Linked DNA regions of Homo sapiens: region 1 is linked to region 2. The links come from fine-mapping of genetic effects on gene expression. A gene starts in region 2. The other region holds a variant in brackets. All regions are shown on one strand. Distances are from middle to middle. Region 1 overlaps ATP6V0A4 (ATPase H+ transporting V0 subunit a4). Region 2 holds the start of ATP6V0A4 (ATPase H+ transporting V0 subunit a4).

Region 1 (5,373 bases), 24 kb after region 2:
ACCGCGTCCAGCCTATACTTCCACTTTCTAAGTAAGCCTCTTCTGTTTTTCAGATAAGGTCACTGAGGCCCTGAGGTTAAATAGCTTTCCCAAGGTCACGCATGGTAAATGGCAGAGCTGGGATCCTGACTCCAGTAGTTGGGCTGGAGCCTCTGCTCTTAACCATTAGGTACGTGTACTCTTTTCTCCACATGTTCCTGAGTGGTTTCTGAGCACCCAGACGTTTGAAAACTATGGCCCCACCCGCTGACTGGGAGACAAAGCAAACACCTGCCTTGGGGAAGAGCAAGATGAGAGGTAGGAGGGTGAAGTGGAGAGTGGAGGGAGGCACGAATTGAGGCCAGGGCTCCTAGTGCCTCTGGAGCTCATATGAAGGGAGAGGTAGAATCAACACAGTTCTTATCTTCCTGCTCTTCTTTGCAAATCTTGAGTTCAGCCTTTGGAACTTCATCCAGGTGTCTGGATTCTTGGACAGATCTGCCCTGGCAGGATGGGTGGGTGCAGCTGAGCTCCGCCTCTCAAGAAACGCAAGCAACTCCTTTCCTCCAGGGTACAGAGCAGGTGCTCTCTCAGAGGGCTGGGCCTCCACTGCCCCAGGTTCACAATCGCTGCCTCAGCTTAGCTGATTTTCCCAAACCGCCTACAGCTCCTCCCTGCTGCTTCCCAGCCTAAAGTTTGATTTCTCACCCTGTGTTCTCTAAACAATCGTTCTAATTTGATCATGCACAAGTATCACCTGAGGAGCTTATTAAAAATGCAAGTCTTGGCCAGGCATGGTGGTTCATACCTGTAATCCCAGCACTTTGGGAAGCAGAGGTGGGAGGATTACTTGTAGGCTAGGAGTTGGAGGCCAGCCTGGGCAACATAGTGATACCCTGTCTTTATGTTGTCATATTTTATAAAAATTAAAATAAAAAAATCAGCCAATGGCTGAGCACGGTGGCTCACGCCTGTAATCCCAGCACTTTGGGAGGCTGAGGCAGGTGGATCACAAGGTCAGGAGATCGAGACCATCCTGGCTAACCCGGTGAAACCCCGTCTCTACTAAAAATACAAAAAATTAGCTGGGCGTGGTGGCGGGCGCCTATAGTCCCAGCTACTTGGGAGGCTGAGGCAGGAGAATGGCGTGAACCCAGGAGGCAGAGCTTGCAGTGAGCCGAGATCGCGCCACTGCACTCCAGCCTGGGCGACAGAGCGAGAGACTGTCTCAAAAAAAAAAAAAAAAAAAAAAAATCAGCCCAATCATAGTGATGCACACCTGTAGTCCTAGCTACTCAGGAGGCTGAGGTGGGAGGATCACTTGAGCCCAGGAGGTTGAGGCTGCAGTGAGCTGTGTTTGCGCCACCACACTCCAGCCTGGACAACAGAGCAAGACCCTGCCTCTTAAAAAAAAATGCAAATCACAGACAATCTAGGAAACTTGAATCCTAGAATTAAGGCAAATTTAAGAATTATTGAATTTTAGGAGTGACTGGTATTTTATGTGTGTTTGTGTGTGTATATGTGCGTATAAAAGAATCCTTATCTTTTAGAGATACCTGCTGGAATATTTTGAAAGAAATAATATGATGTATGGGATTTGCTTCCAAATAATCAGAGGTGGGGAGGGGAAGTGGGTGGGGTGTGGATGATAGAACATTCATGAACTGGTGTGGCCAAGTAATGTGTACGTAGGGGTTCCCTGTACTATTTGCTGTACTTTTGCAGAAAAGTACAGAAAAGTTAAAAAAAAGCACCCCCCTCACTCATTCTGGGGTACCTTCTAAGGCCACTGGTGGGGAGAGTCCCTGTGGGGGATCTGTGCACCACCCTGGAGAAGCAAAGCTCATTCAAACAAACGCAGGTGGCTGTTGCAGCCCCGCACCCCTGGGCAAGAGAAATGCACCTAATTGGCTTGTTCTGCCCCTCGCACCCTCTGTCAAAGAAATAGGAAAAGACAAGACCCCTCCAAAGGAAAAGGGCACATATCACATATGCTTCTGTCTCTTTTTACCTGGGCCACAGCGGAAGCTGAATTTCAGCCATTGGGCATTTCATAAGGAGTCTTCTATTTTCCTTTGAAAGTAGAGTGTTTTGGTTAATAGTTGATAGGATGGTGAGTGTGATATTTTTTATTTTCCAAAACTATTTTAATTTTTTCATTTATATATGTATATACACACATATATACACACGTATATACATATGTGTATATACTATATATAATGTATATAATATATAATATATAATGTATATAATATATATAATGTATATAATATATTATATATATAGATATATATATTTATTTATTTATTTTTGAGATGGAGTCTGGCTCTGTTGCCCAGGCTGGAGTGCAGTGGCGTGATCTAGGCTCACTGCAACCTCTGCTTCCTGGGTTCAAGCGATTCTCCTGCCTCAGCCTCCTGAGTAGCTGGGATTACAGGCACCCGCCACCACACTCTGCTCATTTTTTCGTATTTTTAGTAGAGACAGGATTTCACCATGTTGGCCAGGCTAGTCTCAAACTCCTGACCTCAAATGATCCGCCCACCTCAGCCTCCCAAAGTGCTGGAATTACCGGCGTGAGCCACGGCGCCCGGCCCCCAAAATTATTTTTCAAAGTTATTTTGTTTTTACAAGTTCAAGGGATGTTTTGGTTTACTGGGGTCCTTCTAAGGCCTCCAGGAATCTTGTCCTCAACCTTCAGCTCCCTGAGGGGCAAGTTACTTTCATTAGAAAATAAATGAATGCTTCCTGCTGGGAACTTAAGGTCATGGCAGAGGGCACAGGTGGGGCGGGGGCTGAGCAGGCTGGCCGGTGGGGCAGGTTTGTCTTCACCCACAACAGGCCAGTGTTGATACAACAGAGCTGCCTCCTGGCTCTTTG[G/C]GAGCCTGGGAGGAGAAGGAGCCGGGAGGGGCGCTGCGGGGAAGCCACCTGCGGATTCACTGGCTGCTGCTCCGCCCAGGACTGCTAGCAAGCACGGAGGGCTGCCAGACCTGGGGCTCCCTGCTCCGTGCGTCAGGTTGGGGAAACCACCGTCTGCCCCAGACCCTGACCCAGGACCCGCCTGGAGGAAGCTGGGGTAAGAAGGGTGTTGATGCTGTGCTTTTGATCTGCATAAAGTGAATGCCTTGGGTCTCTGGTCTATGTTCACTTGGCTGTAGTTACTAGACAGGGCAGTAGGAGAGCTTTGAATTCATCTTGGTGTCAAAAGGCACAAATGTGGGCCCAGACCATGTGCACTTCCTGAGGGATGATGTTTATCCTCTGGTCTATACATGGGGTATTGCTTCTGGAGTACCCACTTTGTGGTGCTGTTGACCTAGACCGGTGTGGGAGTGGAAACAGGGAATGGTTCTAGCCTCGTGGACTTCACTGGTTTGTGTGTGGGGAATCCAGGCAGTTAAACAAGCGATTGCAAATGATTGCTCTTCTGGGGGCATGTAGGAGGGGGCTTAGCTCCTTGAGGGAGCTGGAGGTGTCAGGGAAGGCTTGTGGAGGAAGAAGATCCTTACATGGAGACTGGAGGAGTGACAGGGTCATGCGGGGCGTGGGATGGACGGTGGAGAGGAGGATATTGAGTTTCCAAACCCAGGGGAAAGCCTGGGCGAAGGGCCTGAAGGGGGTGGGAGCTGGGAGAAATGCAGGGTCCCTGGAGAGGCCAAAGCTGGAGGAGGACACAGAGGAGGCCAGGTCCTGCAGCCTTCGGCTGGCCAGCTCGAGGACTTTAGAGTTGGTCCTGTGTGAAACTGGGACAATGGGTAGGCCCAGTATCGAGCACACAGTAGATACTCTGTACGTGATAAAATTAAATCTACTCTGGAGGTGTGGAAATTCTTCCAGAAGGTTGACCTGGGGGGAAAAAGTGTGATTTGGCAGCAGTAGGGCCGTCGGGAGGATCTTTGGGAATAGCTTCTGTGCCCTCCTCCTCCCCTTGGCTCTCATGTGGCCTTCAACTTCACCATTGGAAAGAGCTTCACTTTCTTCCAACCCCTGGGAGGTGTCCTTCCCTGCCACCTGTTCTAAGTGACACTAAAGGCAGTCCAATGGGCAGCATGACTTGGATGGTCTATTAAGGAATGGAGAAATGTTCAGGAGTGACAAACTGCCCCACCCCAGAGTTTGGAATGCATTGATCGCTGCTGGGAGGCCTCTGATGACCAGGGCTCCGTTCCCTGGCTACGTATGCTGTGTGCGGGCTGGTGGCAATGGCTTCAAGATCATCCCCCAGTTTCACAGTTAAACTTTGGACATGCATCTGTTACAGTATGGTGGATGTTTTAATCTATTTCAGTCTAGATGTTTGAGATTCCCCTTTCAGGAGTGTGAGTCTTAGTCTTTCTTTAATCAGCAGTGTCAATACACACTTATGACTGTATGGTGGAACTGTGTCTTGCAGGTCAGTTTTGGCTAACCTAACTCGCACCATTCCCCTGCCCCACTCACCCGTGGGCATCCTTCTTCCATATACAGGACATACAGATTTATTTTATTCCTGCTGACTGCACAGGGCTCTGTTATATCACAGTTTATTTAATCATTCCCCTAATGATGGATATCTAGGTTACAGCCATTTACTATAATTATTACATACAATATTATAAGAAACATTCTTGTTCATCTGTTTCTCCATACATATCCAGGTCTATCTGGATAAATAGCAGTGGACATCTTGATTTGTGGGTATGAGGGATATAAGATTTGATAGACATTGATAAATTGCTCTCTGAAAAAGCTACAAAGAATTTACACGTTAACGTTGGATATACCCAATGGGCATATGGATTACCAAATCTCATTCTGATGACAAAAACTATTTTTCCTGACTAGGGAAATTGAAGACAAAGTATTCTGGAATCCAGAGTTGGTTGTGATACCCACAACTGAGTTCTAGAGTGACATTCGAGTGCATGAAAGGGCCTGTTTTCTCATACCCTCCACAACTTGAGTCTTTAGTCATATTTTAAAATATTTTGCCAGCTGAGAGCAGTGGCTCATGCCTGTAATCCCAGCACTTTGAGAGACCAGAGTGGGAGGATCACTTCAGTCCAGGAGTTCAATACCAGCCTGGGCAACACAGCAAGACTCTGTCTCAACAAAAAAATAAAACAACTAGCTGGGTGTGGTGGTGCACACCTGCAGTCCCAGCTACATAGGAGGCTGAGGCAGGAGGATCTCTTGAGCCCAGGAGGTTGAGGCTGCAGTGAGTCATGTTTGTGCCACTGCACTCCAGCCTGGGTGACAGAGCAAGACTCTGTCTCAAAAATAAAGTATAATATTTTGCCAATCTGATGGAGGGCATAAAGTGCTATCTTGTTTTTAGAATCAGGATAGCTGGGCATCCTGGTGCACACCTGTAGTCCCCGCTATTCAGGAGGCTGAGATGGGTGGATT
Region 2 (5,373 bases):
CATAGAAGCAAGCCCAGAGACTGCCAGAATACGCAGCACATAGATTGATTCATGAGCAAGGAGTGGAAAGATAAAAAGGACTTTAGCATGAATTGTTAAAGTCCTGTTGTCTTGAGGTGTGGGATTGGGTTAGGGATCTGAGGCATCCAGGTTCCTGTCCATAACTGACAATAAGAAGAGAGATGACCTCTAAGTCCATACTGTTCAATACGGCAGCCACTAGCCACCTGTGGTTGTTTAAATTTATTAAAATCAAATTCAGTAAAAAAAACTCAGCTTCTTGTTTACATTAGACCCATGCCAAGGGTTCCATTGCCGCGTGTGACTAGTGGCTACCATATTGGAAGCACCACTCAGACATGGGACATTTCCACCCTCAGTGCAAGTTCTATTATTAGACAGTGCTCATGCTGACCTAGGTAGATGGAAACCAAGAGATGGATTGGAAGAACCTTCCTAGAAATTATATTGCTGTTCGTTCTGCTTCTTGGGGAATGCAAAAAGGAAAAAAAAAAAAGTGGTGGGCATGGAAACTCTCAAGGTTCCCCTGGCTGTGGGTCAGTGTGTCCTTCAAGGGAGCTTGTTGTCACAGCAGGACGAGTTCAGAAGAAACCTGCTGTTTAGCTAAAGCCATGAAGTTGCTGCTGAGACTAATTTTATGCCACCCAACCCCCAAGCCACTCCAATGTCCTGCTTAAAGTATAGTAATTGCCTCGATGCAATCTGTTACTGTAAATTATTTACAGCTAAATGGCTTAGAGCCTGGTCTTTATTTGTTTTGGAGAAACTGATTCCTCACTATTCTAATTTTCCTTATGACTCAAATAACTTCCTTGGCCCTGACTTTCATTTCACCTCTACACCTAGAATGGAAGTTGTCCTCTTCCAAAGTGAGTGGAAAAAAACCCTAGTTGGCTGAATGCTAGGGTTAGGTTCGAGCTTATGAAATTGCCATTGTTATAGGTGAAAATTGTTCAATATCAGCAATTTTCTGTGGTTCAAATGGAATAGCCCCGGTGAAAATTCCTAAGAATTTAAACATCGCCCTCCTCCCTTATAAGCAGAGCCAGAAGCGAGGGAGGGACTGGCCCTACTTGGGGCTATTCCACAAGAAAAGCTGCTGGGAAGACCCAACGATTCAGTGCAGTTAAACTTGTCTTCTGATTCTGAGCTCCCATCATAAGCAAGGCACTGTCGGGGTAAGTAGAAAGAAACTCAGCACTCTTATTTGGGGAGGGGTGAAGTTGGAAAATAAAATGAATGTGCTTACCATAATTGCTGACATTCACTGTGTGTGTTCTATGGGCTATTTCTAAGTTCTTTACATGAAATTACATCAATTCGTCTTGACAAGCACTATGATTGTCCCCATGAGATAAAGGAGGAAACTTGGCATAGAGAGGTAAAGTCATTTGCTCGAGGTCGCATAGCTAGTGAGTCATGGAAGCTGGACCTGGGTTCAGGCTCAGCGGCTCAAGAGTGCACGTCTTGAACCTCAACACCAACACCCCTGGCAGTGGCTACAGAAGAGAGTCTGAGGATGAGAGGGGCAGACACAGGACTTTGGGGGCAGGGTTGGTTTTGGGAGCAGGAGTGTTGCAGGGCATAGAGAGTGTGGTGGTGTTCTGAGGTGGCTGAGAACAAGATCAAAGCCAGGAGCAGAAGATGGTAACCAAGGTCCCTCTGCCGTGAGTTGCAGAACCCGGCCTGGCAGGGCAAGGCAGGGGATGTAGATCAGCCTTCCAGCCTCCACAGGAAAATGGGGAGATAACCCAGCATTTCCAGTGCCCGGGGAGGCAGGAGGGTGGGAGACAGTGAATGGCAGCCCTCCTGGCAGTCAGGTTTTGTGAAAGTCGCAGAGAAAGTACAAGGGGCAGGGAGGGATGGAGGACTTAGGAAAGGGAAGGTCAGACACAAATGTGCACAGGGAGGATTGCAAAGCACGACAGCCCAGTGGGGCTGAGAAGGAGCCTTCAGGACACAGCGGACCAAGAGATATCATTTTGGTCCCCTGATGGGTGAGACTCCAGCAAATAACTTTTTCCTTTCTTTGTGGCAAAGGCCAAGAGAGGTGGCTGCTCCTGCCTTAGCTGAGGAATTGAGTATCTGATCTCCGTCTCAGGCCAACCTAAGACCCCCCCTGCCCCAGCCCCACCTCCCACCCCCTGCCTAATCCTTCAGATGAGAAAGTTCTGTTTCCTCCTTCCTTTGCGCAGGACCAACCCTGGCCAAAGAATCTTCCCCCTCCTCCTTCTTTCCCTCCCACCTCTCTTCCCTCCTTCCCTCCCCCTTCCCAGCCTGGCCATGAATAAAGCTCATAACGCTACCTGCCGAGCAAGCCGAGTGGAGGGAGGCAAAGGCCAGGCTGAGGATCAGGGTGGCCCGGGTGGCAGCGGGGAGGCGCTGCATGCTGGAGGCTGTGCTGAGTGCCCGGTGCAGGTGAGCCGGTCCTGCGGAGTTGTGCCGAGTGCCTGCTGCAGGTGAGTCGACTCCCACCTGCAGGAGCTGGAAAGCAACTCTGCCAGAGGTGAACTTATGCTGGGTGTTTGGGGGAAACACCATGGGGTGGAGCAAAGGAAACTTGGCCTGTCACACCTTCTCTCACCTCTCTAGAAGGGAAGCCAAACCGTTGGCTGAGGAAGGAAGGGAGGGGCAAGCTGTGCCCTTCTCCCCTGAGCGCAAATATTGTCCTTATTGAGAAACAAGGGGAGGACAAGAGAGATCTGTGTCATGCTGGTTCCTGGGACATGAGTTTGCTGCCTCTCCCATCTGCAGGTGTAGCATGGATGCTCAATTCCATTTGGGCCAATATTCACTGAGCACCCACTATGCTGAAGTTGGGAGATACCTGCTGTCGAAGTGCGTTAATTACAAACACGCATCATTCAACCCCAGAACCGTGTTTGAGGAATGGCTTGGGAGGATAAAGCACTGTGGGTTTCAACAGTGGAGGCCACATCTGCTGATGGGATGCTTCAAGAAGAAAATGGCATTTGAGGTTGGGCATGGGGGCTCACCCTGTAGTCCCAGCACTCTGGGAGGCTGAGGCAGGTGGATCACTTGAAGTCAGGAGTTCAAGACCAGCCTGGCCAAAATGGTGAAACCCCATCTCTAATAAAAATACAAAAATTAGCCAGGTGTGGTGGTGCATGCCTGTAGTCCCAGCCACTTGGGAAGCTGAGGCAGGAAAATCGCTTGAACCCGGAAGACAGAGGTTGCAGTAAGCTGAGATGCTCCTGACCCTGCATTCCAGCTTGGCCGACAGAGGGAGACTCCATCTCCAAAAAAAAAAAAAAAAAAAAAAAGAAAATGGCATTTGGCCTGGGCCTTGAAGGATGGCTAGAATTTTGACAGGGGGAGAGGGGAAGATGGCATTATAGGTAGAGGGACAGATGAGCAAAGGTCCAGAGGTAAGGAAGTGTCAGAGGGTGGCTGTACCAGCAGCACCCAGAAGCGCAGGTGAGCCAAGGCATGTGAGGTGGGGAGGCAAGAGGAGAGCTGTGGGCTAAGCTTCTGCGTGCCTGGTAGAGGAATTTGAAACAAAGTCAGGAAGCAAAGGGGAAGGTTCTGTAGAGATTTTGAGCTGAGGAGTAACTTGACTAGAGCTCTGCATTCCGTCTAAAACATTTATTGAAGACCCACATGTATATAAAAGGTCTCATCCTAGGCACTGGAGACTGAGATGACTGAGACACGCCTCTTCCCCTTGAGAGCACAGTGCAGCAGGGAACCAAACCCGGAAGAAAGAAATTTGATGCAACCTGGCAAGACTCAAATAGGGGTACCTTCCACTGTGATGGGAATAAAAAGGAGGATGGGATGAACTCTGCCTGAGAGGTATAGGGGAAGGATTCACAGAGAAAGTGACATTTGGGCTGGGTGCTGAAGTTTGTATGTGCAGATTAGAGTTGATGGGCTTTTCAAGTCAAAGGAATAGCACCTATAAAGGCGAGGGAATCGTCTGTGTGCACACAGCCTGCCATGTGTGGAAGTGTTCCTGCGCATGAATGGGCCTGGTAAGGGTGAGGGGTGGACTCCAGCTCTGTGGAAAGACATAGAAGGCGTGAGTAAGCCCCAAGGAAAGATTTCCTAGTGGAGTGTAACAGCCCAGGGGAGGCACTTTTTTCTAATTGGCTCTAAGATATAAAATAGTGGTGGCCTATGTTCCTGGATTTGGGGATAGGGCCAACGTGCCCTAGGAAGGGTGATTTTCAGTCAGTGCACAGAAGTCCAGTTTAGGCATTACCACTAGTTGAACATTAAACAGTTGCATGCCAGGCCAGGCTCTCGGTGTGGGGACCTGGGGGTGAGAAAGACCACACAGCCCTTGTGCTCAAGGAACTCAAGGTCCCCACAGAGAGGACGCTGCTTAGTAGAACAAATGCTGTCCTCGATGTTTTCCTCACAAGTAAACCCTGCAGTGGGCTTCACAGGGCAGGACTGATTTATCCAATGGGTACTAGGGATAACAGCGGTACGTGGAATCCCCAAGATTTCCAAGGATCTCAAAAATGTTTGAGACCTGAGAAAATATTCTCAGATCCAAAATTTGAAGAACAGACCAGGCATATTGGCACACGCCTGTCATCCCAACACTTTGGGAGGCCGAGGTGGGAAGATCACTTGAGCCAGGGAGTTCAAGACCAGCCTGCACAACATAGTAAGACCCTGCCTCCGCAAAACAAACAAAAAAAAACACAAAAAAATTACTTGGGTATGGTAGTGTGCACCTGTAGTCTCAGCTACTCAGGAGGCTGAGGTGGGAGGATCACTTGAGCCCAGGAGGTTGAGGCTGCAGTGAGCTGAGATGGCACCACTGCACTCCAGCCTGGGTGACACAGTGAGACCCTGTCCCCAAACAAACAAACAAAAATTTGAACAATCAAAAACTGGGCAAAATAAATGATTGTTTCAAAAGCAAAGTTATACAGTTCACTTGAAATGTTTAAACGGAAACGATTTAATGTGGGACGCTGGGTGCATTTTAATGTGTTTGACGTGAGCAGAGCCTGTCCCTCCTATGGAATCGGAACCTGAGGTATGCAAACATGTAAGATGGCCTGCCTGGGGTTATTGTAGTGGTGGATTGAACAGCATCTGCAGCCTAAGCTGAGACCATCCTATCAAGTCGTATCAGGGAAAGCTTTTCTGGCAAGCAGTGGATGTGGAGGAGGGGGATAATGTGTTGGCCCTCCCTCCCTATTTTATCATTGTTATGTGATGTCGGACTGTTTTAGATGAGCTGTTTGTAGGACAAACATTCTCCTATCTACAGATGGAAGAACTTTGTTATTCGAAAATAGTATAGGCTGGGCCAGGCACGGTGGCTCAGGCCTGTAATCCCAGCACTTTGGGAAACTGAGGCAGGTGGCT

What was found. PIP is the estimated chance that this variant, and not a neighbour inherited with it, causes the effect.
Region 1: its variant is fine-mapped to the expression of ATP6V0A4 in nasal epithelium (TOPMed, PIP 0.91).

Annotation. Positions count from the first base shown.
Region 1 is chr7:138,771,505-138,776,877 of GRCh38, reverse strand. All of the region lies in intron 2 of ATP6V0A4 (ATPase H+ transporting V0 subunit a4), which reads left to right. Among named protein-coding and RNA genes, the nearest start is that of TMEM213, 24 kb to the left of the region's middle. RefSeq lists enhancers at 2,420-2,922, 2,923-3,426. The variant G/C (reference allele first, on the strand shown) is at 2,866.
Region 2 is chr7:138,795,141-138,800,513 of GRCh38, reverse strand. ATP6V0A4 (ATPase H+ transporting V0 subunit a4) reads left to right here and starts at 2,318. Exons shown (of 22, transcript NM_020632.3): 1 at 2,318-2,480. TMEM213 (transmembrane protein 213) reads right to left here and starts at 2,520. Exons shown (of 3, transcript NM_001085429.2): 1 at 2,328-2,520. The coding sequence starts at 2,409. RefSeq lists a silencer at 2,256-2,550.